7 linked regions of the Homo sapiens genome follow. The protein of the gene in region 6 interacts with the protein of the main gene of each other region in a pairwise test. Each region holds a gene or a part of one and is shown on either strand. Other genes may lie near its edges.

Evidence for each region.
Region 1: the proteins of BNIP1 (region 6) and SLC7A14 interact in binary tests that used the Homo sapiens proteins (3 or more experiments, as listed by UniProt).
Region 2: the proteins of BNIP1 (region 6) and ELOVL4 interact in binary tests that used the Homo sapiens proteins (3 or more experiments, as listed by UniProt).
Region 3: the proteins of BNIP1 (region 6) and HSD17B11 interact in binary tests that used the Homo sapiens proteins (3 or more experiments, as listed by UniProt).
Region 4: the proteins of BNIP1 (region 6) and TSHR interact in a two-hybrid assay, tested with the Homo sapiens proteins (one large-scale study listed by BioGRID and IntAct).
Region 5: the proteins of BNIP1 (region 6) and STOM interact in binary tests that used the Homo sapiens proteins (3 or more experiments, as listed by UniProt).
Region 7: the proteins of BNIP1 (region 6) and GPR35 interact in a two-hybrid assay, tested with the Homo sapiens proteins (one large-scale study listed by BioGRID and IntAct).

What each region holds. Positions count from the first base shown.
Region 1 is NC_000003.12:170,578,836-170,583,446, forward strand, and holds part of SLC7A14 (solute carrier family 7 member 14), read right to left. Parts: intron 1-4,611. UniProt on the Homo sapiens protein: Imports 4-aminobutanoate (GABA) into lysosomes. May act as a GABA sensor that regulates mTORC2-dependent INS signaling and gluconeogenesis. The transport mechanism and substrate selectivity remain to be elucidated.
Region 2 is NC_000006.12:79,922,765-79,927,375, forward strand, and holds part of ELOVL4 (very long chain fatty acid elongase 4), read right to left. Parts: intron 3,618-4,611; coding exon 3,430-3,617; intron 2,269-3,429; coding exon 2,188-2,268; intron 1-2,187. UniProt on the Homo sapiens protein: Catalyzes the first and rate-limiting reaction of the four reactions that constitute the long-chain fatty acids elongation cycle.
Region 3 is NC_000004.12:87,376,885-87,381,495, forward strand, and holds part of HSD17B11 (estradiol 17-beta-dehydrogenase 11 precursor), read right to left. Parts: intron 1-4,611. UniProt on the Homo sapiens protein: Can convert androstan-3-alpha,17-beta-diol (3-alpha-diol) to androsterone in vitro, suggesting that it may participate in androgen metabolism during steroidogenesis.
Region 4 is NC_000014.9:81,143,714-81,147,917, forward strand, and holds the end of TSHR (thyrotropin receptor isoform 1 precursor), read left to right. Parts: coding exon 1-640; 3' UTR 641-2,593; downstream 2,594-4,204. UniProt on the Homo sapiens protein: Receptor for the thyroid-stimulating hormone (TSH) or thyrotropin. Also acts as a receptor for the heterodimeric glycoprotein hormone (GPHA2:GPHB5) or thyrostimulin. The activity of this receptor is mediated by G proteins which activate adenylate cyclase.
Region 5 is NC_000009.12:121,355,953-121,360,563, forward strand, and holds part of STOM (stomatin), read right to left. Parts: intron 205-4,611; coding exon 101-204; intron 1-100. UniProt on the Homo sapiens protein: Regulates ion channel activity and transmembrane ion transport. Regulates ASIC2 and ASIC3 channel activity.
Region 6 is NC_000005.10:173,161,529-173,165,996, reverse strand, and holds the end of BNIP1 (vesicle transport protein SEC20), read right to left. Parts: intron 3,925-4,468; coding exon of another isoform or gene 3,852-3,924; intron 3,686-3,851; coding exon of another isoform or gene 3,673-3,685; exon of another isoform or gene 3,637-3,672; intron 2,273-3,636; coding exon 2,076-2,272; 3' UTR 1,610-2,075; downstream 1-1,609. UniProt on the Homo sapiens protein: As part of a SNARE complex may be involved in endoplasmic reticulum membranes fusion and be required for the maintenance of endoplasmic reticulum organization. Also plays a role in apoptosis.
Region 7 is NC_000002.12:240,630,741-240,634,441, forward strand, and holds the end of GPR35 (G-protein coupled receptor 35), read left to right. Parts: coding exon 1-142; 3' UTR 143-2,419; downstream 2,420-3,701. UniProt on the Homo sapiens protein: G-protein coupled receptor that binds to several ligands including the tryptophan metabolite kynurenic acid (KYNA), lysophosphatidic acid (LPA) or 5-hydroxyindoleacetic acid (5-HIAA) with high affinity, leading to rapid and transient activation of numerous intracellular signaling pathways.

The sequences.
Region 1 (4,611 bases), on a different chromosome or scaffold from region 6:
TTTAATCTAAATAACTTCTTTTAGGGATGAAGATTAAAAAGTAAGAAGAGTTAAATCCTTGCCTAAGTTCTTGCAACATGGATGATGCTGAGGTTTTGAATCTTTTTCTATGGCTTATAGTTCCACCCCTGAAATTTCTACCTGCTGACCATCCTTGACCAGTAGTTCTTTCACCTGGAGGTACAAAGGGAAATAATCTGAAATCCAAACACATACTCTTTCCTACTCCCTGAATCTTTGAGAAAAGATAAACCTGAATCTTTGATAAACTCATAGACTAAACAAGTTTTCATGACTAATGAAATGATGCATGATGTTAAAAAATGCAGAGTGGGTTCTATAATTGCCTGAGAGAGAGAAGACTCAAGTCATATTCCTCTGACATCAACTCAGGTGAGTGTTCCCAGCATCAATTTCTCTCTAAAGTGAGAGAGTTCAGTTATGTGATTGTTATAAAATATTGACATAATAATATGTTGTATAATCTCTAACAAACAATTAAGCCTTTCCATTTCTGAAGACCATTTTGTCAACAGAATGTTTAAACACCTGGGTGCAATTGTTTCTTATTTACTGATTATTTTTCAAAAACATGGAAAAATTTTTTTAAAATGAAGAGAAAATGAGAACCAGCTTGATCATTTGTTGTTCATTGGGTTGGAATATTTTGCCTTTGGCAAATAAGAATCAGTTAATTCTAGGCGTTTCCTTATTGACTTGCTAGAATAGAATGAGCTGTTTTTCTTTCATTTTTGTCAGTAATCACCAGTTAAAACCGTTAAAGGGAAGCCTTATTATTCCTGGAAAAGGATAATATTCTGTAAACCATCAGACTGCAATGTCGCTAGTTCTCCTCTAATTAATATATGTGCTTTCATTCTAAGCTAAGCTTCTTCTGAATTTAGGAACAATAGCAATTGCCTGCTGCTATCATGAAGGCCAGCCAAATACTTTCTGAAGGAAATGACAGGTATCTCTTCAAGATAAGAGTGGAAAAGAACACACAACTCCATTTAAGCTTTGAGTTTCTGAAGTTGCCTCATCACAGTGAAATGCAAGGCCCTTGGGCTGATTTGTGCTTTGTTTTCTGGGTGAAGCAGCAAGACACGGTTCTCAGGAGTAGTCTATCTTGGCCATCACTATTTATGCCCCGAGAAGGGCTAGAAGTGTGGTTATTAGGGTAAGATTTGATATACTGTGTTTGCCTCCTGTTTTATTTGCTAAAGGAAAATGCCATAGGGAATACTGAATTCTTGGTAGAGATAGACGAGTGTATGGCATGAATTAACCTGGAACAATGGTCTGAATTCACCAAATATTTATTGATCATCCATGTGTTCCAAACATCCTTAACCACAACATTTTTGTGTCAAAATAGGACATTCTTCAACTATGTTATTGATTAAATGGATGATTGTATGCTATTAGGATTTGTTTCAAAGCTACATTGTCAGTTCTCTTTATCTCTTGGGATCTACAATTAGAGAAATCCTTTAAGCTACAGACAGAGAAGAACTCTTTTCAGCTCCAAGGTAATGGCATTTTCCCCTTTCCAAAATCCAGGTCTTTCCAAGAGGTAAACAAGTCCAATGAAGTGAATAAATCATGACGCCCAACAACATATGTTTATTGTTAAAGCTAGCATCATCTACTAGAGGCCAGAGTTAACAGCTTCGCTTATTTTTCCTTCAGTAATATAGTCCCATATGCAACAAAGGCTTGAGGACAGCAGGCTTGACCAGAAACAGTGGCTAAGTGTATATCTCAACTATTTACCTGGCAGAGCATCTTACAAGGTAGCATCTATACCTTTGTTAACTCTAAACAAAGGTAAACTAGATCTCTGGAACTGGAGATAAAACCTCATGCCCTTGGTCATACTCAGCTTGATTCTCAGGTGCTTTGTTAATGAATGAATGAATAAATAAAGTGACTTCGTTGAGTTTTCAAGATGATAAAACCTAATAAATACAGTGAAGAAACATCTGATGGAATAGCTTTGTTTCCAGGCTTATTTTCTACAATATCTGAGCACTGTGTTAATCTTTGTGTTATAAGAGAAAAATATTTAAGTATCAAAATCGTGAGCCACTATAGAAGGTATGGCTGCATCTGAAAAGCAGTTTTACTTGACGCATAAATAGCATACACAGATCAAAGTGCGGGAGTAGGTCATAGATGCCAGGTTTGGGAGTAAATGTTAGCCAGATGCATAAGGTTCTCCTAATGACCCCAACAGATTTCAACTTAGAGAATGAATAAAGACTTGTTATTTAAGGTTAGAATCCCTAATGCAAACTCAATAATTCAGTCAAGTTAATGACCTTCACTTTTGTTTTGGTTTAATCAATGCATGAAATAGAATTATTCTTGTTCTGATTGATCTATGAGAATGGATAGAAGCTCATTTCAATTTGTAATTAGTAAAAATATGTTTTGAAAATTATCCCTCTCACCCCCTCACACTGAGGAATATCCATAATGCTTGTATTTTGTTATTTCTGAACCCCTATTACCATGATGGGTTCATTATTGATGATTACTTAAAAACTATTAGTTAAAAGGTAAAAGCTGTTCCAAACAACTTAGATTTCCTAGTTATTATTTTTTTTAATCCTGAGAAGAAAATGTTCAGGACCAAATAAACTAAACAACAAACAATGCACGGTATTTCAATTAATAGAATCTAACCAATCAGAAATTTCAATAACTAAATTTTTTCTTCACCGTTCCACTTTTCAGTGAAATAAATGACCACAAAGGCAAAAATACAGTCATATCAGATTAAAATCATTCAGAAATGCATTCAGCCTGAACTACCCTATTTGTACATTGTACCATATCTATATAAAATAATAAACCATTGCAGATTCAATCATGCTCCTTACAAAGTACTTTCGTATACCTACACTTTGAGTTTTACAATAGTCCTTTGAGATAGTTATGGCAATTCTCATCAACATCTTAGAGATGGAGAAATGGAGCTCTAGAGGGCCTCATAATGTCACCAAGTAGTATGTGACACCTGTACTACTGACTCCAAGTCTTATATTCTTTCCATGTCTATCATACTATGATTACTAAGACAAGATAAACACACACACATGTTATTACATATACATGTAATCTATAAACTTGGATTTTGAATTGGAACTTTCAGATTGTATCTAAGTCAAAATTCATGAAACCAGCAAACCTCATTCATGGAATATTTTACTTTATAGTAACATAGAATTCATATGAAGCAAACTCCAGAGGCTACCAGCTCCTTAAGTAAGACATGCACACTCCTTCATAGCCTAATTGTCCTAGGTATCTTTGGGCTACTGGTGATGTATTAGGCATAAGTGGCTTTTTCTTTCTTTCTTGGCAGAAGATTCAAAGAAGAGTAGGTCCTTACTTCTTCCCAGTTCCTAGTTCTTGGTTGCTGTGAGGGTGTGTTTAGTACTGTCTAAAGCAGCATTTTTCAACACAACTTTCTTAAATGATAAAAATTTTCTGATATCTGCCCTGTCCAACACAGTTGTCATTAGCCATATAGAGTTATTGAGCACTTGAAATATGACTAGTGTGACTGGGGGGCTAAATTTTTAATTTTAAAAAGTTTAATTAAAATTTAATTATAAATAGTTACATGTGGCTAGCAACTACCATGTTGGACAGAGCAGTTCTAGACAGTTTAAGGTTCTGGTTCACAGGGCCCAGAGCACCTCAGCAATAGCATTCTTGACAGATCACCTAGTGAAGGTACAATAGAAGTTATGTATTTAATTACAAATTATACCTTAATTGGCTCTAGAGAAGGTTTGAAGCAGAATGTTGACATTATCAATAAGAAGCCATATGGGAATTTTTAAATAAGAGATAACAAATGGGGAGAATATGTTTGGTAAATATTAAGAGATGAGAGAGCAAAACAGTGTCATTTGAACTGAATTTGAATTTCTAAATGCTATGTTTTGGAGCAGGATGGAACTATCAATTAAATACAAAAATCCAATTGATGAAGATGAGACTTTACTATGAGCTGGAAAGAGAAGAAAGAGGAAATGAACAGAACATCAGGTTCTGCTGTATGTTAGAGCGAACTAGAATCCTAGGACCATCTTTAGTGGAGCCACCTACTTGACAGAATTGTGATAATTCAGTAAAATGATTGATGAAATAACTTCACATAGTGCCTCACATATGATAAGCATTTCATAGATATTAGCACTTATAATGATCTTTATTTATAAAAATCCTTAGGTCTTATTAGGGCCTTTTCCCAGTCCCTATGAGAACATGGGCAGTTGCTTAGGGTAACCAATTTTGGGAAAATTATTTTTTGGGGAATAGGTCATAGAAGAGGAGATATAGACAAGATAGGGCAAGTAAAGAAATGACACACTACCATTCCCATTTGTGAATTGCTGCTTCAGAGAAAACTGTTACTGAGGAAGGTGGGTCATATCTCCCAGGTATGTTGGGTTAGACAACACTGGAATAGTAGGACCAGAGGGGAAAGAGCTGGAAGACAAAGGAGTTGGAAGAAAGGTAAGAGGAATGCTTGTATGTTAAGTGTTTGTATTTTTGGCATGTTGTTTAATTTAGTTCACTGATGCTGACGTT
Region 2 (4,611 bases), on a different chromosome or scaffold from region 6:
ATGAGATTTTTGTTTGTTTTGGCTTTTGCATTTGAAAAACAAAATTATAATTTTAAAGTATGGGGAAAGAAGAAACAGAAAGCATATAAGAAACAAAGTATTTACAAACTGAGAATTATTTACTGAATTTACTTGAAAAATATCATTAAAAATGATATGAATTGGTTGAAAATAAGCTTGAAATAGTTAACTACTCCCAGCAACACTATAGTTAATATTCACTATTATATTAGTTCTTTAAAATAAAGTAACTGTCACCATTTTGGCATCGTAACCTTTAACTAGAAGGAAAGATACAATCTCTTATTTCTCCTCTATCTGGACCTCTACATTTGCCACAATTCACATAAAATAACAACAAATAAGTCTGCTTAGTTTGCAAACTGCACTAGATATCTTTAAATAAACTACACCAAAAAGTGATACTTCTTGGCTACGTAACAATGAATACAGAAATGAGTCTCTGCGTAAAATATTCACTCTATTGCATCCCATATTAGAGAGGAGAAGAGAGCACGAGGAAGATTTCAAATGAAATCTGTTGCAAATCTCAGGTTCTTTATCCTCCTAGATTACAGTTCTCATAATAGCTCATTTTTTAAAGACTTGAAAATTTACATCTGTAAGTGAGAGTGGTATTTTTAAACCTTTATCCTAAAAATAGTAATATGTTGCCCCACCCAAGGGTTTTTCTATGCATACTCCCAGAAGTCAGTCAGTCAAACACTTATCCCTGTTCCCTTCCCTACGGCAAGCAAGAAGTCAGCCCTCCAACTGAAGAGATTCTTTGGCAATAGTTATCAGAAGAAAATTTTTCATAGCCAATACATCTGAGTAGTCTCTCATTTTCTCTCAGTCACCTTCTAGGTTTTATTTCCTCCTTAGTCATTTGTTTACATGGCTGCTGTCTGCCTTCTCACCCTCACTAAAATGCCAGCCCCACAAAGGCAGGGCTTTTCACCCCTGTCCCCAGTACCAACATATAGTAGATGCTCAATACATATTTAATGAATAAATAAAACCAACATGACAACCAAGACAGGTGATTTTTCATCAGTCCATAAGTCTTCTAATAGGGAAATGAAGATACGTACATAAAATTGTTAAGTACATTAAACCAATTTTGTCTCCAGTCTTGATGAATACTGATATTTATATATTGTCCACTCCCCATGCCAGGAAACTATTTTTCTCAAGGGAAGCCACTAGATATTATTACTACATATACTATAGGTAACATAAAACATGTTATGTTTTATATGTAATTTCTAGTATGAACCACAGTATATAAGAAGAGTTCAATAAATACGTAATAGAATAAGGTAATCTGTTGTTTCTTTTGCTTAATGTTAATTTTACTCATGTAAGTGAATGGAAAATAAAATATAACATCTTGTTACTAGTGTTTTATTTTTCTGCAAATATAAAAAAACTGAGTTTATGCCAATACAAATTGTTCTATGCCTAATTTCCTAAATATTCCACACTTCACAAAACATTTACTTTTCCTCACTTTCTTAACACATAACTTGGACTCTAAGAGTTTCTACTCTTGAGCAAAAACAAACAAACAAAAATCTAAAATAATGTCTTTAAAATAAACATGAGACTTCTTTGCTTTAACAAGTACTGCATTCTAGTAATTCAATGCATATTCACTCATGCTGCAAAATAAAAAACATTTTTGAGATACAAAAACAAATTTTAAATTAAGTACTTTTTAAAAAAGCATAGTTTTACTGACTCATAACAATCTAGTATAATTTCACTATCATATTAAAGTACATTTTGCCAGGTGTGGTGGCTCACACCTGTAATCTCAGCACTTTGGGAGGCTGAGGCAAGAGGATCCCTTGCGGCTGGGAGTTCAAGACCAGACTGGGCAACATAGCAAGACCCTGTCTCTACAAAAAGTAAAAAAATATCTAGGCATGGTGGGGTACACCCGTAGTCCCAGCTACTTGGGAGGCTGAGGCAGAAGGATCAATTGAGCCCAGGAGTTTGAGGCTGCAGTGAGCTATGATCATACCACTGCACTTCAGTCTGGGGGACAGAGCAAGAAACTGTCTCTAAATGAATGTTAAAGAAACTGTCTCTTAAAAAAAAGTACATTCTATATTTTCACAGACTGGGGCCTATAAAAATCAAACCACTTTTACTGATTAAGAGTATTTTTAATGTACTTACCCTGACTTCATGAACATTATTAGAATAATCCACACTCTGGCAAATATAGCTATATCCCGCATTATATGATCCCATGAATAACTGGAAAAAGAGTAATAATATTTGTAGTAAAGTTTTAGTAAACACAGCATTAAAAACACAATTATATACAAAATGTAGCCTTTCAAATTATTTTAAACACAATATTTTCTTTAAAAATTTCAAATGCATTAAAAATTTCATGCATTCCGATTGCTAGAAGTTACTGTGCATTAATTTGTTCTATAATTAAAATCTAAATTAAAAATCACATGTAAATTTTATACTGAACATTGACTCTATCTATTAAATACTTCACAGTATTAAGAGAAATTTTTATTGCTAGGACTCAGATTTCAAAGTTGTCCTACCTTAACTGGTTTCTATGTTTGATCCAGAGTGGTTTGCATCTAACAAATTAGGTACAGGTATCCAAATAAATTAAAGTGTTCATGAAGTTGAGACTCGAGGCTAAGTTTTCAAGTAAAGAAATATTTCTTTTTCTAAGAAGAGTTATTGTTTATTTTCCTAGCATTACTAGTCAGTTCTCTGGCTTCATACAGAATTTTAATGAGTCTCTTAGGAAACAAATTCTTTATACATATGCAATTTAAAAAATGGCTGTGTCAATCTAGCCTTTAGGATTTCCTTTGAAAATGTTGTGGAGAATTTGCTAGTGCCCAGAAAAGTATATAATGATTAGTAACAACAGCTATATGGCAGTTAATTCATTTTAATTCCAGCCCAAAATACAACATTATGTAATAGGATTTACTTGAAATTGGCATATTTTGATCAGTTACCAAACCAGAAACTACTGAATAAGAATTATAAATAAATAGCTGCTACTGTTTACTGAGTGCTTAATACGTGCCAAACACTATGCAAAAATTATCTTACTTTACTCCGATAATAACCTGAGATGGTAGGTATTTAAGTGGGGAAAACGAGGCTAAGAAAAGTTAAATAACTTTCAATGCCAGAACAGCTAATAAGGGTTACTTTAGAATCCAGTTGGTCTTATTCAAAATTCCACTTTAAACAACTTTCCTATACCTCATGTTTAATATTTTTGTTATTCAAAAGTGAAAAATGTCAAAAATGTACTTTTAGAGTAGCTAACAGTTATGTCTGGGTAAAATATTACAATGATGGTTTTACACATTCTCATTTTTAAATTTCCAATAACCTTGGAAAATTATTAAAGTGATCTTAAAAACATACCTCTCTGAAGATAAAGAGGTTAAGCAAAACCATCCCAAAATTATAGATAATGAGCACTAGACGCATCTGAAAAGGTTCTCGGTCCTTCATCCATTTTGGACCCAGCCACACAAACAGGAGATAAAGAGTGCTTATACTTAGTGTAGGCCAAGGAGACTGCATCAGAGGCCAATTTTCCACACGCTTATCTATAGAGAGAACAAAATACCATAAAATTCATTAATCAGTAAATGTTTTATAAAATACACTTTTTAGGAATCAAGATGTTTCAACTTAATTTCCTAATTTGACTAAATACGGATCACTGTCCTTTGAGTCCCAACAAAAAATACATGGTATAAAAACCAAAGAAACAATACTGACTCCTGCAAGTGGCTTTTGAAAATTATGCTTCATTACTTATGTCACACATTATGTTTTACAGAGACCCTACAGAACAAAAACAAGAAATAAAGCGCACTAAAAACAGAGGTGGTTATCTTGGGATGAAAAGTTAATGAAAAACTTCATACACAGAAAATAAATATGTTAAGGAAACATTTGTCTTCCATATTATACACGTGAAATTTATCAGGGCAGCTTGGAGGCTGCTCTGTGTGTCCACTCCTAAAGCAGGCAAGAATGTAACTGGAGAGGTACGTACGGGGCGATGGTAGCCATTTGCTGAAATATCTCGAGACACTGAAGACAAGAGTACAGGGGCACTGAGAGATTAAGTTAGGGTTAATTACAATTCTATAATGTAAACAGTCACCATATTCAAGACATTTTTCTAACTTTTTCATTGAGAACATGCACCTATTTTATTCCCATGAATAACTAACTTGAATGTTTTTCTCTAGAGCTGTAAATCGCATAACTTACATATGTGTAACTATATATATAAAATGCAACACATTATTTTACTTAAAATGAATTGATTGTCCAGCATATTCAAATACACAACCATAAATCAATTTTATAATGGAATGTTGCCACAAGTAAAACATTTCTGAAACAAGCATGATAATGAAATATGGATGGGATTAACAAAAATTCATCTTTTAACACATTATAAAAATATATTAATATTAATTTTTATATTTCTAAAAGCTAAACAACAGTTGAAGGTTGCAAATCTAATTTCTAGTTTATTCTTGGCAATGCAAAACATTTTATGTCGTATTTTGAAGAAATAATGTA
Region 3 (4,611 bases), on a different chromosome or scaffold from region 6:
TTTGGGAGGCCAAGGTGGGTGGATCACTTGAGGCCAGGAGTTCAAGACCAGCCTGATTGACATGGTGAAACTGCATCTCTATTGAAAACACAAAAATTAGGTGAGTGTGGTGGTGGGTTCCTGTAGTCCCAGCTACTCGGAAGGTTGAACTGGGAGGATTGCTTGCACCTGGGAGGTGGAGGTTGCAGTGAGCTGAGATTGCACCATTGCACGCCCGCCTGGGTGACAGAGCAAGACTCTGTCTCAAAAAGAAAGAAAAATATTTTTAAAAAAAGACTATTTGTAGGCCGGGCACAGTGGCTCACACCTGTAATCCCAGCACTTTGGGAGGCTGAGGCAGGTGGATCATGAGGTCAGGAGTTCAAGACCAGCCTGACCAACATGGTGAAACCCAGTCTCTACTAAAAGTACAAAAATTAGCTAGGCGTGGTGACGTGCACCTGTAATCCCAGCTGCTCAGGAGGCTGAGGCAGGAGAATCGCCTGAACCCGGGAGGCGGAGGTTGCAGTGAGCTGAGATTGCGCCACTGTGCTCTAGCCTGAGCGACAGAGCGAGACTCTGTCTCAAAAAAAAAAAAGACTATACTCAAAAGGGGACCATTACAGGTAATGTAACTTTTTTTCAAAATAATTGTTATATCTTCTGGACTAGAATATAATCAATAACTATCTCTTCAACTAAGAAAGATCATAGAATCTTGATGCTTAAGCCCTACTTTTTATAAGATTGGAGTACCATAATTCCAAGGGGTAGCAATGCAAAAATACCTTATATGAGATTTTTATGGTTCCATAAGCAACTAAGATGCTTGGGCGGATAGACCCTAGCGTCCTAATGCATTTTGTTATACACTGTGTTTCAAATGAAACCTAGCTCTATTAACAGAGTTATCATTATTTAGAGATAGTGCTACAGTGTGTTGGGGGACTGAGGGAAAAGTGGCAAATAGCCTATGAGGGGCTTTTACTTTGTTATGCATTTACATGATTTCATTATTTTTCTTATTGAATTCTCACAGTAACTCAATGAGACAGCAATTCTTATATGCTCACTTTAAAGATGAAAACATGAAACAGAATGGTTGAGTTTCATACCCAAGGTCACATGGCTATTAAAAGATGGAGCTGGGACTCTCCCAGATCTGTCTGACGTCAGAGCCCAAGACAAGCCACCCCAAACAGAAAGGAGGCCATGGGCAAAAGTCTACCAGTACTCCTGTAGGGCATCAATCTGCCATGCTGAAGGCTCTTCAGTCAGAATTGAATTTCATCAGATTATATTTACGTTAGTAAAGTGTCAAGCTAAGTTTTTTGACCCTGATCAACACCATTTATACCTATATACTATTTTATATTACCAAAGGATTTTCCCAGACACTCTTGACCCTTTCTTCATCATTGCCTATTACCTCCCCAGGATATGAATGTCTGTTTTGTATTTTTTTGTATTAATTTTGTTTTTAAATTTTTGTGGGTACATAGTAGTGTATATATTCAAGGTTACATGAGACATTTTGATACAGGCATGCAGTGCATAATTATCACATCAGGGTAAATCAGGTATCCATCCCCTCAAGCATTTACCCTTTGTGTTACAAACAATCCAATTATACTTTTAGTTATTTTAAAATGTACAATTAAATTACTATTATTAATCATTTTTACTAACAAAAAATTCTTTATGGCTGCTCCTTGCAGAGCAGGGCTAACTCACAGGCAGTGCAACCAGAGTAGCCTATTTGTTCTAATTTTTGGTACCCATTAACCATCCCTACTTCTTCCCTACACCACCTCTACCCTTCCCAGCCTCTGGTAACCATCCTTCTACTCTCTATCTCCAAGAGTTCGATTATTTTAATTTTTAGCTCTCTCAAATAAGAGAGAATATGTTTTGCGTGTATATATATATGATTTTATATATATATATAAATATAAAATATATATATAAATATATATATATAAATATATATATAAATATATATAAATATATATATATAAATATATATATATAAATATATATAAATATATATATATAAATATATATAAATATATATATATATATATTTATATATATATATTTTTTTTTTTTTTTGAGATGGTGTCTTGCTCTGTTGTCCAGGCTGGGGTGCAGTGGCATGATCTCAGCTCACTACAACCTCCGCCTCCCAGGTTCAAGTGATTCTCTCACCTCAACCTCCCAAGTAGCTGGGATTACAGGCACCTGCCATCATGCCCAGCTAATTTTTGCATTTTTATAGAGACAGGGTTTCATCATATTGGCCAGGCTGGTCTTGAACTCCTGACTTCAGGTGACCATGTTGCCCAGGCTGATCTCGAACTCCTGAGCTCAGGGGATCCACCCACCTCGGCCTCCCAAAGTGCTGGGATTCTAGGCATAAGCCACGCTCCAGCAGATATATTTCTATAAAGCATTATTTGCCTCTTCTAGATACAATTGAGATGTGCTGTATATAATGGGGTTTCACTCTGAACGCATTCTTGCTTGTACCTAACTAACTACCTTAATGTCAACAAGGTCATCAGAATTACTTGGGCAGATTCCTGGATATATATATAATATTTATATTGTTATATTTATATTATATAATATATATTATATATACATATATAATATGTACATATATACATATACAGCATTATATACATATACATCTACATATACATCTCATATATACATACACAGCATTATATACAGCACAACTCATATATACATATATGTATTATATTACACATATTATATGTATATGTATGTATATTATATATTAATAGTATAATATAGTATTAGTATACTATACTATTATATTAGTATATAATAATAGTATATACTATTATTAGTATACTATAGTATAATATAGTATAACAGTATAATATAGTAATAGTATATTATAGTATAATATACTATAGTATTATAGTATTAATAGTATATGTATTATACTATTATATATGTATATGTATATGTATTATACTATTAATTATTATTATACAGCACATCTCATATATACATATTATATTATATATTTATATATACTATATAAGTATATAATATTTATCAGCCTGTATATATATATTACAGGTATCTGCCTGTAATCCCAGCTACTCGAGAGGCTGAGGCAGGAAGATTGCTTGAACCCAGGAGGCGGAGGTTGCAGTGAGCCAAGATCACGCCACTACACTCCAGCCTGGGTAACAGAGCAAGACTCTGTCTCAAAAAAAAAAAACGTTCTGATACTAAAATGATACTAAAATGGCCACCTCAAAACAGCTACTTCAAAATATCTGATTCTCAGCTTGCTTTCATTATTAAGAAATATACAAATCCCAGCACTTTGGGAGGCCAAGGCAGGCGGATCGCGAGGTCAGGAGATCGAGACCATCCTGGCTAACATGGTGAAAGCCCGTCTCTACTAAAAATACAAAAATTAGCCATGCGTGGTGGCGGGCATCTGTAATCCCAGCTACTCGAGAGGCTGAGGCAGGAGAACTGCTTGAACCCAGGAGGCGGAGGTTGCAGTAAGCCAAGATCACACCACTACACTGCAGCCTGGGCAACAGAGCAAGACTGTCTCAAAAAAAAAAAAAAAAAAGAAAAAAGAAAAGAAAAGAGAAAAAGAAAAAAAGTTCTGATACTAAAATGGCCACCTCAAAATAGCTACTTCAAAATATCTGATAATGGGCTAGGCGCGGTGGCTCACGCCTGTAATCCCAGCACTTTTGGAGGCCGAGGGAGCAGATCACGAGGTCAGGAGATACAGACCATCCTGGCTAACACGGTGAAATCCCGTCTCTACTAAAAATACAAAAAAATTAGCCAAGCGTGGTGACGGGCGCCTGTAATCCCAGCTACTCCGGAGGCTGAGGCAGGAGAATGGGGTGAACCCGGGAGGCGGAGCTTGCAGTGAGCCGAGATCGCACCACTGCACTCCAGCCTGGGCGACAAAGCTAGAGCTAGACTCTATCTCAAAAAAAAAAAAAAAAAAAAAAAAAAAAGAACTCAGGCCAGGTGTGGTGGCTCACGCGTGTAATCCCAGCACTTTGGGAGGCCAAGGAGGGTGGATCACTTGAGGTCAGGAGTTCCAGACCAGACCACCCTGGCCAACATAGTGAAACCCCATCTCTACAAAAACACAAAAATTAGCCCGGCATGATGGTGCGTGCCTGTAATCACAGCTACTAGGGAGGCTGAGGCAGGAGAATCGCTTGTGAACCCGGGAGGTGGAGCTTGCAGTGAGCTGAGATCACGCCACTGCACTCCAGCCTGGGCGACAGAGTGAGACTCCATTTCAAAAAAAAAAAAAAAAAAAAAGAACTCAAACCAAAAATTCCATAAACAAAGAGGTTCTCAAGTCTTGCTGAATCACACTTTTTATACTGCACTGAATTAGAATATCCAGGGGTAAGGTCCAGGAATGTGTATTTTAAGGAATCTGCCCAGGTAATTCTGATGACCTTGCTGCCATTAAGGTATTTAGTTAACAGGTACAAGCGAGAATGCGTTCAGAGTGAAACCCCATTATATACAGCACATCTCAATTGTATCTAGAAGAGGCAAATAATGCTTTATAGAAATAGATCTGCTGGGAGCGTGGCTCAT
Region 4 (4,204 bases), on a different chromosome or scaffold from region 6:
CGCCCTGCTTCCTTTGGTGGGAATAAGTAGCTATGCCAAAGTCAGTATCTGCCTGCCCATGGACACCGAGACCCCTCTTGCTCTGGCATATATTGTTTTTGTTCTGACGCTCAACATAGTTGCCTTCGTCATCGTCTGCTGCTGTTATGTGAAGATCTACATCACAGTCCGAAATCCGCAGTACAACCCAGGGGACAAAGATACCAAAATTGCCAAGAGGATGGCTGTGTTGATCTTCACCGACTTCATATGCATGGCCCCAATCTCATTCTATGCTCTGTCAGCAATTCTGAACAAGCCTCTCATCACTGTTAGCAACTCCAAAATCTTGCTGGTACTCTTCTATCCACTTAACTCCTGTGCCAATCCATTCCTCTATGCTATTTTCACCAAGGCCTTCCAGAGGGATGTGTTCATCCTACTCAGCAAGTTTGGCATCTGTAAACGCCAGGCTCAGGCATACCGGGGGCAGAGGGTTCCTCCAAAGAACAGCACTGATATTCAGGTTCAAAAGGTTACCCACGAGATGAGGCAGGGTCTCCACAACATGGAAGATGTCTATGAACTGATTGAAAACTCCCATCTAACCCCAAAGAAGCAAGGCCAAATCTCAGAAGAGTATATGCAAACGGTTTTGTAAGTTAACACTACACTACTCACAATGGTAGGGGAACTTACAAAATAATAGTTTCTTGAATATGCATTCCAATCCCATGACACCCCCAACACATAGCTGCCCTCACTCTTGTGCAGGCGATGTTTCAATGTTTCATGGGGCAAGAGTTTATCTCTGGAGAGTGATTAGTATTAACCTAATCATTGCCCCCAAGAAGGAAGTTAGGCTACCAGCATATTTGAATGCCAGGTGAAATCAAAATAATCTACACTATCTAGAAGACTTTCTTGATGCCAAGTCCAGAGATGTCATTGTGTAGGATGTTCAGTAAATATTAACTGAGCTATGTCAATATAGAGCTTCTCAGTTTTGTATAACATTTCATACTAAAGATTCAGCAAATGGAAAATGCTATTAATTTGGTTGGTGACCACAAGATAAAATCAGTCCCACGTTGGCTCAGTTCAACTAGATGTTCCCTGATACAAAGAGAACTTGATTTCCTTAAAACTGAAAAGCCAAACACAGCTAGCTGTCATACAAGAAACAGCTATTATGAGACATGAAGGAGGGTAAGAATTAGCTTTAAGTTTTGTTTTGCTTTGTTTTGTTTTTTAACTCAACCTATTAATCATCTCTTCACAAGAATCCACCTGATGTGACCAAGCTATTATGTGTTGCCTGGAAAAACTGGCAAGATTTCAGCTTATGTGGCCTAGCAAACTAAGAATTGCTCTTCTTGGCCAGCCTCATAGCATAAAAGATGTGAACTCTAGGAAGTCTTTCTGAGTAGCAATAAGTGGGAATTATGGGCAGAGCACACTCAATCCCCTGTTGATTAATAAAACAGGCTGGACACTAATTAACTATGGGACTTAAATCTGTAGAAATGAAGGAGTCCAATAGCTTCTTCCAATTTTAAAACTCTAGTACATCCCTTTCCCTCAAATATATATTTCTAAGATAAAGAGAAAGAAGAGCACTAAGTAAGTAGAATCTGTTTTTCCTATTTTGTAGGGCTGCTGACTCCTAGTCCTTGAAGCCTAGACACATGACCCAGGAAATTTTTCCTTTGTTTCACTTTTGATTATGATGTCTGAGCCAAAAATTCAATTAAGTAAACATACTCGCCTGGATCTGAATCATTCATTTAATTACTAGATCTACCCAGCTGTTATATCAGGCCAAAAACAGATTCGTGTTTATATAAAAGAGTAAACGATGGTTGCAAATTTTGGCTATTTAGAGTTGCTACTTCACTATGAAGAGTCACTTCAAAACACTTCGCTTGTCTTTAGGGATGATTTTTGCCATTTCCAGTCCACGGTATGATACTAAAGCTGTCAAGAGAGGTTTCTTCTTTTCTGAAACTGCCAGCTCTTTCCAGCCCTGTTGATCACTGGACATAAAGCTTCTTTTCCCCAATAATTCTTCTTTACTTAAAATAGTCAGGATCTTTATCTACAGATGTACTCTCCAGGTTACCTGTGATGATAGCCCCCTAATGTCCTGCTAGAAAAGTCTCCAAGCAGAGATGACATTACTTCTGAATGCTCATAAACCACACCATGAAATAAAAGCTCTTTGTTGTTTTAAGATTGTGAAGTGTCGTTAATGGGTCCCCACAGATGGTCCCTGCTGGACTCACCTGGAATCTCTCCACAGCCATACCCACTCATCACTATCATTGAGACCTGCACATCTTAATAGAAATATTATAAACATCGAAAATCATGACTTACCTAGAAGTTCGCTTGTAACTAATGAAATTAAACAAATGTGTTGCCTTTTGTCATGTGTTTCTCTCCTGTGACATTTCAAAATATCACATCTTGATAAATAATGTGTTTCATCTTGAATAGCTGAACTAATTGCTTTGGAAACAGAGTCCTAGAAAAGTGACTTCAACAGAATTGTTACTAAAATTTGCACTCACAACATGAAATAAATTTTCTTCCTATGGAATAATCGTGCCAAGTCCTAGAGTGTTGTTCTTTTTTGTTAATCTGTGAGTTTCTTTCGGGGTTACTATTGTATGTGTTAAAACTGAAGACAAGAAAACTAATTGGCACATTTGCTAATGAATCCATATTAATAAATAAGTTGTTGACTGTCAATTAATAACTTAAATATAACATTGTGTCTTGATCAAAAGTGGTCTTTATGTGGAAAAACTTACTCCTGGTGAACTGAATTATGATTAATTGACAGGGATCACTAAGAGAAAAAACAATAAAACCAAATATATCAAGCAAATGATTGGTATTGACACTAGAAATTTAAATAGTGTGCTAATGAAGACAATAAACCTCTAAGGCCTCAGAGGCCTTATTATTATTCAGAGCTCATGTTATCTAGCACCTTTCAATTATCTGAAGATAAACCCAAATCATTGAGGATAAATGGCCACAGACTAGTCGCAGTGGAGGTCACACAATTCATTCTCTAAAGCTCATGCATGTTTCTCAAAAGGCTGTCTCTTAAAACACCCCCAAAGTTTATTGACTCTTGCTTTAAGGATAATCTACTGCATCAAAGAAGCAGCCAATGAGGAGAGGGTCTTACAGGGCAGCACCATGAGAGTGGCAATAAAGTAAAAGTCAGGGCAAAAAGAAGAAAACTATAACCACAATACTTTTTTAAAACAATAGAAGTTTGAGAACAAATGCTCCTACTTTAGGAGAAAACTGTTTCATAACATAATTGAGTGATTCTCATTCATTCTGAGTACCTAAAGGGTGCCAGAGAAACTTGTTGGCATCACTGCATTCTGTTTTAAAAGCTATAAAAGTTCCAGCTCCAAGTGGTAGACTGACTTTCTTTCAAATCCCACTGACATGACAGGGAAGAAATTTAAAATGAGACCAAGCCAAAACTGCATGGTGAACAGGAGAAATAGAACCACCAGCAAAGCAAACGTGTTGATAGCTTTCTGAAAGATGGAAGGTGTATGGCCTTGAGTTGATGGTAACTAACTGTACAGGAGGTTACAGCCTAGAACACTGACAGGATAAGGCTGCAGCTACAGAAGAATATACTTCCCTGCAGAGTCCCAGTGAGCCTGCCAAGCCTGAAGGTTACAGGACTGAGGGTTAATTAGGGCAATTAATTGAAAGTCTGTGTCACTTGGACCCTCCAATCTGCCATCACTCCATTCATAGAATAACTGACATATGCAGTGTTTGCTGCAATTAATATCTCAAAGAAAGTGAATGATTCCTGTAAACAGGGAACTCCTCCCACTGGCCCACTTCCTGCCCTCACACATAAGTGAAGCCTGATCATTGAGGCGTTACCATCAGCACCCCCCACCACCCCCACCTGAAGTCAGGGAGAAACATCTTGGGGAAAATGATCTATACAATCTGCTGACATTAGCTATTCTCATTCTTCACTCAAAAATATAAAGAAGACACAATAATTGCCAGACATTTGAGAGAAATAAACTGCACATCAATAGCACACAGACACAGAGACACACACACACACACAAGGCCAGAATGTACAAAAGAACATTTCTCCAGAGAAAATAGATCATTCATAAACAGAATATTGTTGTTTAATTTCACTTAATAACTTCAGAGAAAT
Region 5 (4,611 bases), on a different chromosome or scaffold from region 6:
GACAGTCTGTTTCTTTCTCACATACACACAGGCACACACGAAGTAGGTTTATGGAGGTAGGAGTTGACCCCTTCCCAGAAGTGAATGAAATGTTCTTTACCTTTATGCACATCCATATTGAGATTGGGAAAGTTATAACGGTGAATAAGAATGAGAACGCCACCAAAATCCATCCGCAAGGTCCAAGGCCCTTACTGGGGCTGTCTGTTGAAAACAAAAAATATACAACTCTCACAACTGTTACTAGCATAATCACCACCATCTTCATCCTTACCATTCGCTGAATACCTATGTGCTTGGCACTACACCAGCTGTTTTACATGAATTTCCCCATCTAATCCTCATACAGCCCTGAAGTGTAAGTACTACTTTCCCTTATCTATGTGATGTCATAACACAAGTATATTTCCACATTACTCATTACTTTATTCAGCAAACATTTATTAAGCATCTACTATTTATTAGGCCCTCTGCTTTGTACTGAAATGATAACAATGAGTAAGACCCAATCCCAGCTTTCAGGGTTAAAGTTTAGTGGGAAAGTCAGACAAACACATAATTATAATATTAGGTGGTAAGTACAGATATAGAGTATCTGTTCAGAATATTTTGAAGACACAGAATGAGTTAACTCACGCAGTTAGGATGGAGGTGAGAAAGGAATGGGGCGGGGAGGTGATTCAGGTGGCTGTCAGAGGGTTTCCTGAAGGATGTAATAGTAAGAAAATATCGACGAAAAGAAAGTGGAGGCTGGGCGTCGTGGCTCACGCCTGTAATCCCAGCACTTTGGGAGGCCGAGACAGGTGGATCACTTGAGGTCAAGAGTTCAAGACCAGCCTGATCAACATGATAAAACCCCGTCTCTACTAAAAATACAAAAATTAGCTAGGCGTTGTGGTGAGTGCCTGTAATCCCAGCTACTGGGAAGGCTGAGGCAGGAGAATTGCATGAACCCAGGAGGTGGAGGTTGCAGTGAGCCAAGATTGTACCACTGCACTCCAGCCTGGGCAACAGAGGAAGAATCTGTCAAAAGAAAAGAAAAGAAAAGAAAAAGGAAAGAGGGAAAAGGCATTAGAGCATTTTAGCTAGGAGTACAGTACGAATAAAGGTGAAAACCATATGATATGAGTATAAAGTTGTTTAGAGCCTCTTTTTAAAAATTACACCTGTAAAATATTTCACTAGGTTTATGCAGCATCATTTATTGCCCACTTCCTGATTACACAGGTTGTTTGATTTCTTAGTGCTATAAACAGTGTTGTAGTGAACATCTTTGTACACGGCTTTCCTCTCACATTTCTAATTGTTTCCTGTTCCTGTAATATGCAACAGCTTTTCCGTCTGATTACAAAGGTAATAATGCAAAAAATTCACAGAAGTATAACAAAGGAGGGAAAAATTACTTTAAATTCAGAGGTATTTTGGTATATTCTTTGAAAATTTTCCTAGTGTACACACCATATTTTTAAATGATATATATATATATATTTATTTATTTATTTTTTGAGACAGAGTCTTGCTCTGTTGCCCAGGCTGGAGTGCAGCAGCACAGTCTCACCTCACTGCAACCTCCACCTCCTGGGATCATGCGATTCTCCCGTCTCAATCTCCTGAGTAGCTGGGATTACAGCCACCTGCCACCACACCCGGCTACTTTTTGTATTTAGTACAGATGGGGTTTCACCATGTTGGCCAGGCTGGCCTCGAACTCCTGACGTCAAGTGATCTGCCCACCATGGCCTTCCAAAGTGCTGGGATTACAGGCATAAGCCACTGCGCCCGGCCTTAAATCATATTTTTAAAAATAAATAAATAAATAAAATGTGTAACCTATTTTTCTTCCCTGTAGCTATTCTCTTTCACCTTCTTTTTTGGCCTTCGTGGTTATGCATTTGTGTTTTTGAAGTTACACTTGCATAAAGTTTAAAAAGTCAAACCATTCTATATGATTAGTACAAAAAAAGGGCATTCCCATGCTCACCTCTTCCAATTTCCTCCTCCTCAAAAACATTTGCTATTTTGACCATTTTGATATCTACCTCCATATTTCTAAATAATACGCTTTGCAGCTGGGTGCAGGGGTCACACCTGTAATCCCAGCACTTTGGGAGGCTGAGGAGGGAGGATCCCTTGAGCCCAGGGGTTTGAGACTAGCTTGGGCAACATAGGGAGACTCTGTCTCTACTTTAAAAAAAAAAAAAATAATAATAATAATATGCTTCTGCCAGGCATGGTGGCTCACGCCTGTAATCCCAGCACTTTGGGAGGCCGAGATGGGAGGATTGCTTGAGCTCAGGAGTTTGAGACCAGCATGGGCAACCTAGTGAGACTCCCATCTCTACTTGAAACTTCTTAAAAAAAATTAGCTGTGTGTGGTGGCACACACCTGTAGTCCCAGCTACTGAGGAGACTGAAATAGGGGGATTGCTTGAGCCTGGGGGTTCGTGGCTGCAGTGAGCTGTGATGTACCCCAGCCTGGACAACAAAGTGAGGAAAGAAAGAAAGAAAGAAAAGGAAGGAAGGAAGGAAGGAAATGCTTGTTTTGTTACTTCTTGCTTTTTCAGTTTTGAGGACTATTAACTTTCTACTACAGAAAAAGATTTAGTTCTCTTTCCTCCCCGTTACCCCCACCACATACTTATACCCAGCTTTCCAATATAATTACATCATAACTTCATTTAGATCAATATGAGATTTTATATTATGAATTTGTAAGTGCAATTTAAAGCTAAGCCAAGTAGTGAGGTATCACTGGTTTTCTCTTCCTGTACTATTTTTGTTTTTTCTGGAATTACTGTCTTATTTTTTCCCTTTGTTCGGTTTTCAACGTACTTATTGATCCAACCTTAAATCAATTGCCTAAATTTCCTCTCAAAGAGGTCAGGTATACTATCAATTTTATCTTCTGGAAGAATTCTCTCTCAGAGCCTTGTGTGGACTTCCTTCATCTGGTGTGCACGGCTATCATTCTGCAATTGCTTTCACTATCATCCTGGGAACTCCCATCACCTCAGTGTTGTGTTCCTATTTTCTGTATCAAGTGTCATCCTCATTTTTAGTTTGCTTTTGCTTTCTGTAGAGGACATAGGGACTGAGAAGGCCAAGGGATATAGTAGGTTTTCTTATCAACCACTTGGAAGGCTTCTGCTGTATTTTCAGGAGCTATTTTAATGACAGAGGGGAGAAAAGGTATGCCAGGCACATGTTACTGCTCAGAAGAAAGGGCAAAATGGCAGTAAGATGGGGCTTGGAATAAATAGGAGGCCAAGAAATAAGCAGAGTGTTCAGGCTGGGAACATGGGAGAAGAGAGACACATGTTGGCACCCAGGTCAAGTGCTCTAAAACATAGGATGAAAAATCAGAAATATAGTGAGTACTTGGGTTGTATGTGACTTGGTAGTTTTCTGATCCTGTGTTATAGTGTGAGGTAAATGTCTTCATGTATACTTAAATAAAATGATCTAAAGTAATCCTGGAGGTTTCTAAGTTATAATTTAGGGGGTACAGACATATTCATTGAGAGAATATTCAAAGCAGGGCCATAGTACTGTTTGTGAAGAAAGCTTTATCTAGTATTACCATGACTGATCATAGCAACAGTGGCTGTTTTGAGGGGTTGTGTATACCCCAGGCATTTTTTAAAGTTACTTTAGACATGTATCTCATTTAACTCTTACAACAGCCCTGTGAGGGTATTTTTAAATCCCTTTTACAAATGAGTTACCTAAAGCAACATTTAACTTTCCCAAAGTCACACAATGGAAGACCTGGGACTCAAATATGGGTCATCTTACTCCAAAGCCCGTGTTCCAAATTCACCCCTCAATAAAAAAAATCCTCATTAAGAATGTTTTCGTGGTTGAGCACTTTCTCAAGACAGTATCCAAACTGAAAAGCATGGCTGGAGTTGTGAGAATGAAATCTGATATTTTTACAGAGGAAGTCCTCTTAATGCCAGCCATGCCTATTTATAGCAAAAGATAGTTTCAAGGCTCTGTGACAGACACAGGTCTAGGTTTCCAGGGTGAAATGAATTCCAAACAAGGACAGACTGACCACAAATACTTATTTATCTGACAGCATTTGGTGCCTTTTCAAATACTGTCCAAGTCTCCCATAACATACTAGAGTAAAAACTCCCTGAGGGCAGGGATGTTGCTTATTCACTTTTATATTCTCAATGTCTAGCACAGTATCCTGCATAGTAGAATAGATATAAAATAAAATACTTCTCAGCAAGTTTTCTAGCTAGATATGTCTTTTTCTTTCCTTTGAATCTCGATAGCATTTTTTGAAAATTATCTTATGGCACTTATATCTTGTCTAATCTTTTATTTTTTATTTATTTTTAATTGACCTTCCAATGTAGGATTTTAATCTTTTATTATTTTTTAATCTAATATTTTAATTTCTTGTGCATTTATATCCCTTATTACACTGAGATTCCCTGAGAACGAGGAGTAACTATGTTTGAATTTCACTTCTGATACTTCTTAGTTGCATGATCTTTACCTCTTTGAACCTTAGTTTCCTTACCGGTGGAAAGTAAAGATTATTAGGCTGGCCTTGTAGAATACAGATAAAATGATCAGTAAATGTAGATGATAGTT
Region 6 (4,468 bases):
TGGATCTATACTTAGATCCACACTTTAACTTGGAATCCACTCATTAAGCTGGTCTGAGATGTGCAGCTAGTTTTTTATAACTTGGTCCCATGATGATCTGCCACTTTATAACTGAGGCCTTAACTCTTGACATCCTCTGCTCAAACACCTCTAACAGAATGCTGGTGCCTGGCCCAGCTTTTCCTGAAGCACCGCTGCTGTCAGCTGCAGGAAACCTCAGTGCCCAGGGCCCAGGGGGTGGCAGCATTTGGAAAGGCCATGGCAGGCCTGGTCTGAAGACAGCTAGCTACACTTGCTGCTTTATATTCTCATTGGATTCTCAAGTTGACTCTATGAGGACCCATATGGATTATCACCTCCATTTTACAGATAGGAAAACTGAGGCTTAGCAACATAAAGTAACTTGCCAATGGTCCTGTGGTCCATTAGCAGTGGAGCCAAATCTCAAAACCAAGTGTTTGAGCCAAGGATCAAAGTCCATGTTCTTCCCACTTTCCCTTCAGCCTCCACACTGCCCTTCCCAGGTCCTCTGGGGCTATAAATAGTGGGGGAGGCTGGGATTTCAAGCTTGAGGTCAGCCAGGCCTGCAGCACAAAAGACACAGCACCTCTAGGACTGGCCTAGCCTGGGCCCTCTCCCTCTGGCCTGGACAGAACTCAGGCTCACACAGTCTCAGCTTCTCACTAGCTTCTCCCTCCTTGGTTATACTTAGCTCTGGACATCAGAGAGAAAGGCATGTGCCAGCCCGAATCACTGCACACCCCCAGGCCTGGCCAGGCTGCTGTGGTAGAGAATGGCATTGCAGCCTTTTCAGATGTTGGTGTGAGCCACTTCCAACAAGGGCTGTTTTCTGTTCTGTTTCTGTTTTTTTGTTTTTTTTTTTTAAATACAGACAGGGTCTTGCTATGTTGTCTAGCTGGTCTTGAACTCCTGGGCTCAAGTGATCATCCTGCCTCAGCCTCCCAAAATGCTGGGATTAGAGGTATCAGCCACCACACCTGGTTGAACAGGGGCTGTTGGACCCTCCTTCCTGATAGTCTGTGAGATTTTATTTCCGTGTCTCCTTCTGTTCCTCCTTGAGGGAGGAACCATGTCTGGTTCACCAATGTATTTGTCATGTTCAGCAGCGTCTATAACACCCTGTGTGTGGCAGCTGTTTAATAGTTCCTTGTTGTTGGGTGGGGACAGAAAGAAAATAACAATGCTAATTCGTTGTTGAATGAATGAATAAATAAATAATCTAGGTTCATGTCCTAAAAATCTGGACATCAAGAAAAGAGGGCTGGGCATGGTGGCTCACACCTGTAATCCCAGCACTTTGGGAGGCCAAGATGGGTGGATCACCTGAGGTCAGGTGTTCGACAGCAGCCTGGCCAACATGGAGAAACCCCATCTCTACTAAAAAAATACAAAAATTAGCTGGGTATGGTGGTGTGTGCCTGTAATCCTAGCTACTTGGGAGGCTGAGGCAAGAGAATCTTTTGAACCCAGGAGGCAGAGGCTGCAGTGAGCCAAGATTGCGCCATTGCACTCCTGCCTGGATGATAGAGCAAGTCTCCATCTCAAAAAAAAAGAAAAAAGAAAAGAGGAACACACATTCCCAGAGGGCTATCTTACAAAATCAAATACATTTTATTCTATTAAATAAAATCAAGTTTATTCAAGGAATGACCAGGAGTTTTCATCACCTTTCTTCCTACCTCTTCTCTCTTCCCTCCACCAGATCTGGCATTTAAGGGCACGATGGGAGCGGGAGACAGGAGGGGCATCCGGTCCTGGAGGCTGGACTTTAAGTGCTCCACGCAGCAGCGGCCTCCCATAGTGCACAATGGTGGAAGGAGGCGGTTCGTATGTCCCCAGGGCGGCATCCCAATGCCAGACCTTCCTCCCATGGCTCTGTTCACCCTTTACAAGCCAGCTACTTGCAGAAAAGTGGGGCACTGTGTTCCATCCAACCTGCAGGCAACTGGTGCAAACGGAGGGGTGTGTGGCTCAGCTTAGCAGCCTAGAGCTCAGGAACCAGGACAGATCCTGAAACAGGAGCTGAAAGGGCCAGAACTGGCACCTTTGGGATCTCACAAAAATGGAAAGAGCCGCTTTTTCACAATATAGAGGACCGTAGCAAGAAACAGGGCTAGCGCAAGGAAGATGAGAAGCTTGTCCGTCAGCTCCCGGCGATTGTATTTTGTGATAAGCTTCCGGCCCAGCTGGATGGTGCCCGACATGGACTTAAATTCTTCATTTGCATCCAGGATCGTTCGTGAAGAAGTGACTGAAACAAAAGAGGAAGGAGGCCCAACTCAGAGACTGCAGCTCAAGATCCAAAGACCTCACTCTGCTGGCTGGGGTGCTGATAAAAACCAGCATTCTCAAGTGAGTTCCTCTGAGCTGGAATCAAAGCATGTGGAGACCAGCCAAGGAGCTGACAAGGAAAGGCTCCTCCCCAGGTCCCATCAGCTCCAGAGAGTGAGGGGGGGTTTGTCTGGGAGTCCTTGAACATGAGCGTCACCAGGGAGAAGGGCAGAAGAGGCTTGCTCACCCAGCCACCTCCTCAGCTCTCTGAAGCAGATGGACGCTGCTCAGGGAAACCACCAGCCACAAAATCAACCCAGGGATCGTGGGCAGGCACTGTGAGGTCTGTGTTGGGGCAGCAGCCAAATGCACCAGAACCTTCCACCTATGAGGTGCGGCCTCCAGGACATCTGCTGGCCAGACCGGCACTTTGCAGGATCTCAAAAGGGCAAGGGTGTCCCGGGCTCTGCCGTAAGCCCTCACACATACCAGTCCCTCAGGCCAGGGATACTGGCTGTAGCTTTAAGGAGGTGACACCTAAGAAGAGGCCCACGTCCCTTAAGGAATCACTGTCCCCAGAGTCAGATGTATTTCTGAATATGGGTATCTGGGCCTGACGCTGAGGGTAGAAGGTGTACCTGGCGAGGTTCTCCCACAAAACATAGCAAGGCATCATCAGAACAGCCATTGAATAGAACACATTAAGTGAAAAGGGAAAGTATAAAGGAACGCCTGTGAAATGTTTCCATTTAGGTAAGAAACAGGGAGATAAATGGTATTTCATTTGCTTAAGTTACAAAAGCTTGGAGGATCACAAGATATTTTTTAAGACACTGGTTACAGAGGTTGCCTCTGGGAAGTGGACCAGAGGGCTGGCAGGTAGGGGTCAGCTGGAGGTCAGAACAGAGAGTGATCTTTTTTGTGTCCCTTTTGTACTCTCCAGAGCTGTGCTGACCAATATGGCAGCCCCTAGACATGCGAGGCTGCTGTGCATAGAAAAACGTGGCTAATGCAAATGGAGATGTCAGGAGATGTAAGTGTCAAACCCACACAATGTTTCTTTTCTTTTTTTTTTTGAGATGCAGTCTCACTCTGTCACCCAGGCTGGAGTGCAGTGGCGTGATCTTGGCTCATCACAACCTCCACCTCCCAGGTTCAAATGATTCTCCTGCCTCAGCCTCCCCAGTAGCTGGGACTACAGGCATGCACCACCACGCCCAGCTAATTTTCTTTTTGTATTTTTAGTAGAGACAGGGTTTCAACATGTTGGTCAGGCTGGTCTCGAACTCCTGACCTCAAGTGATCTGCCCGCCTTGGCCTCCCAAAGTGCTGGGATTACCGGCATGAGCCACCGCGCCTGGCCAAAATCCACACGATGTTTCAAAGACTTAATCTAAGAAAAAGGAATGTAAAATATCTCAATAGTTTTTAATATTAGTTTTACATTGAAATTATAATATTTTACATAATGGGTTAAATAAACATCTTACTAAAATTAATTTCTTATGTTTCTTTTTACTTTTTAACATGTGCCTACTGGAAAATTTAAAGTTACATACGTGGCTGCTGTTGCGTTTCTATGGCAGTCCTGGGCTAGAGTTTTCTTATCCTTCTCTATGCTGTATGTGTTACCTTTTTAAAAATTAAAAGCTAATAAGTAAATAGGATAAATTATCAGAGGAAACACAGCAGCGTTTTGAAAATGACAGATAAAAGGAGAAAAACAAACACTCACAGAACAGGAATCCCTCTCCGCCTGCTTTCTCCACGCCTGCCTGCTGCGATTTCAAAACCCTGAGATCTTGCTAAGTAAAAATCTAATAGGCCTTTCTTTTTAAACTTTATTATTACGGAGAATTTTGAACCATCACAGAGCAGACAGCATAATATCATGAAATGCCATGTGTCCACCACCCATAACCAAGAACCACCAACCTCTGAAATCCTGCTCCCCCTCCCCCCAACTGCAACTACTCCTGCAATTGTGGAGCAAATTCCAGACACCATATTCCTAATAAGCTTTTTGTTTTAAAATTATGGTCCTAGTAGGCTTTTAAATCAAGCTGAATTTGTGAGGCATAAGGAAAGGGTTAAGAACTGTATTCTTCTCTTTTCTTCAATAGTTATCGCTTGTACAAAATGGGCCCCAAGAACACCGGGACCCTCTCAACACCCC
Region 7 (3,701 bases), on a different chromosome or scaffold from region 6:
GCTCTCAGATGCCAACTGCTGCCTGGACGCCATCTGCTACTACTACATGGCCAAGGAGTTCCAGGAGGCGTCTGCACTGGCCGTGGCTCCCAGTGCTAAGGCCCACAAAAGCCAGGACTCTCTGTGCGTGACCCTCGCCTAAGAGGCGTGCTGTGGGCGCTGTGGGCCAGGTCTCGGGGGCTCCGGGAGGTGCTGCCTGCCAGGGGAAGCTGGAACCAGTAGCAAGGAGCCCGAGATCAGCCCTGAACTCACTGTGTATTCTCTTGGAGCCTTGGGTGGGCAGGGACGGCCCAGGTACCTGCTCTCTTGGGAAGAGAGAGGGACAGGGACAAGGGCAAGAGGACTGAGGCCAGAGCAAGGCCAATGTCAGAGACCCCCGGGATGGGGCCTCACACTTGCCACCCCCAGAACCAGCTCACCTGGCCAGAGTGGGTTCCTGCTGGCCAGGGTGCAGCCTTGATGACACCTGCCGCTGCCCCTCGGGGCTGGAATAAAACTCCCCACCCAGAGTCAGTCCTAGTGGGGCCCTCTGTGTTTCGCACTCGTGTGGTGGGAGGCAGGGAGGGAGCGCGTGGCTCAGAGGGCTGGCGGACATCTTCCAGGGACCCTTCGGGGCTCTTCACTTTGAGGTCCCCCTTGGACCCTTTCACCCCTTCCCACCCCCACCCACCTGGAGCGTGAGCAGGGGCTGTTGGAAGCTCCTGGCAGGACCACAGTAGAGGCCCCCAGCCCAGGTTTCCTTGCTCAAGACAGGGCTGGGAGCAGCTGATCTCCATGTAGGGGCTGCACAGCGGTGCAAGGGGGGGTGACCAAGGTCAAGCAGGTGAGGGTGGGTTGGGGTGGGTGGCAGTGAAGGGGGTGGCCAGGGTCTGTCAAGGAACCCAGCCCTCTTCTCCTTCCTTCAGGGAAAGGCTGGAAACCATGTCTGGCAGGGGCAGGGGTTGGGTGCCCACTCAGGTAAAGGCACGATGTCCTGCTGGTTTCTGCCTCTCCTGTACTCCTGCATGGAGGGCATCTCGAAACCCAAGCTGGAAGGACAGGGCACTCCAGAGACCTCCTGTGAGTGTGGGCCAGCACGGCCTGGGCTCAAACCCCATCCTGTCATCCCATATTGCATGTCCACAGGCACCGCCCCACCCTGTTCCATGTTCCACAGGACTGGAGAGAGATGGCAGTCATGTTCTGGCAGGGACATGGCACAAGCATGCGGCTGATGGCATCTCACAGGACCCAGGCTCCGGAGGGCCCATGCCCAGGAGAGCCCCATAAGGGCTCTGTGCCTAAAAGGGTGCATGCCCAGGTGGGCCCATGCCCAGGAAGGTCCATGCCCAGGATGGTCCATGAGCAGGAGGGCCTCATTCCCAGGAGGGTCCCGTGCCCAGGAGGGCTCTATGCCCAAAAGGGTCCCATGTCCGGGAGGGTCCATACGCAAGGGTGTCCATGCCTGGTTGGGGGGGGTCTATGTCCAGGAGGGTCCCATGCCTGGAAGGGTCCATGCTCAGGAGGGTTCATGCCCAGGAGAGTTTATGCCCTGGAGGGCCCCATGCCCGGGAGAGTCACGTGCACAGAGGGCCCTGTGCTCAGGAGGATACATGTCCAGGAGTGTCCCTGTCCAGGAGGCTCCATGCCCAGGAGGCTCCATGTCAAGAAAGATTCATGCCTAGGAGGGTTCATGCCCAGGAGTGTCCCTGCCTAGGAAGATCCATTACCAGAAGGGCCCATGTCAAGGAGCGTTCATGCCCAGGAAGGTCCAGCCCAGGAGGGTCCATGTCAAGGAGGTTCCATGCCCAGGAGGGTCCATGCTGAGGTGGGTCCATGCCCAGGAGGGTTCATGTCCAGAAAGGTCCATGCCTAGGAGGGCCCATACACAACAGAGCCCTGTGCCCAGGAAGGACCATGTCAAGGAGAACCCCATGCCCATGAGGGTCCATGCCCAGTAAGGGCCATGCCCATGAGATCCTCATGCCCAGGAAGGCCCATGCCCAGGAGGGTCCATGCCCAGGCCAGTTCATGCACAGGAGGGCCCCATGCCTAAAAGTGTCCATGCCCAGGAAGGTCCATGTCCAGAAGAGTCCATACCCAGGAGGGCTGATATGGTTAGGCTTTGTGTCTCCACCCAAATCTCATCTTGAATTGTAATCCCTATAATAACCATAGTCCCCATGTGTCAAGGGAGAGACCAGGTGGAGGCAATTGGATCATGGGGGCTGTTTCCCACATGCTGTTCTCATGATAGTGAGTGAGTTCTCATGAGATCTGATGGTTTTATAAGGGGCTCTTCCCTTCACTTCTCCTTCCTACTGTCTTATGAAGAAGGTTCCTTGCTTCCCCTTCACCTTCTGCCATGATTGTAAGTTTCCTGAGGCCTCCCTAGCCATGCTGAAGTGTGAGTCAATTAAACCTCTTTCCTTTAAAATTACCCAGTCTTGGGCAGTTCTTTATAACAGTATGAAAACAGACGAATGCAGTAAATTGGTACCACAGAGAGTGGGGTGCTGCTGTAAAGATACCCAAAAATGTCGAAGCAACTTTGGAACCGGGTAATAGTCAGAGGTTGGAACAGTTTGGAGGGCTCAGAAGAAGACAGAAAGATGTGGGAAAGTATGGAACTTCCTAGAGACTTGTTGAATGGCTTTGATCAAAATGCTGATAGGGATATGGACAATGAATTCCAGGTTGAGGTGGTCTCAGATGGAGATGAGGAATTTGCTGGAAACTGGAATAAAGGTGATTCTTGCTATGCTTTAGCAAAGAGATTGGCAGCATTTTGCCCCTGCCTTAGAGATCTGTGGAACTTTGAATGTGAGAGAGATGATTTAGGGTATCTGGCAGAAGAAATTTCTAAGCAGCAAAGCATTCAAGAGTGCTCTTAAAAGCATTCAATTTTATGCATTCACAAAGAGATGATTTGGAATTGGAACTCACATTTAAAAGGGAAGCAGAGCATAAAAGTTTAGAAAATTTGCATCCTGACTATGGGATAGAAAAGAAAAACTCATTTTCTGAGGAGAAATTCAAGCCAGCTGCAGAAATTTGCATAAGTAACTAGGAGCCACATGTTAATAGCATAGACAATGAGGGAAATGTCTCCAGGGCATGTCAGAGGTCTTCACAGCAACCCCACCCATCACAGGCCTGGAGGCTTAGGAGGAAAAAATGGTTTTGTCGTTGGGGCCCAGGGCCTTGCTGGTTTGTGCAGTCTCAGGACTTGGTGCCCCACATCCCAGCAGTGGCTAAAAGGGGCCAATGTACAGCTTAGACCTTTGCTTCAGAGGTGCAAGCCCCAAGCCTTGGTGGCTTACATGTGGTGTTGGGCCTGCAGATACACAGAAGTTTGCTGCACTGGTGGAACCCTCATGTAGAACCTCTGCTAGGGCAGTGTAGAAGTGATATGTGGGGTTGGAGCCCCCCCACACAATCCCCACTGGGGCACTGCCTACTGCTACTGGAACTGTGAGAAGAAGGCCACCATCCTCCAGACCCTAGAATGGTAGATCCACTGATGGCTTGAACCATGCACCTGGAAAAGCCACAGACACTCAACACCAGCCTGTGAAGGCAGCTGGAAGGGAGGCTGTACCCTGAAAAACAACAGAGGCAGAGCTGCCCAAGGTCATGGGAGCCCACCTCTTGCATGAGCCTGACTTGAATGTGAGACATGGAGTCAAAGGAGATCATTTTGGAGCTTTAAGTTTTGACTG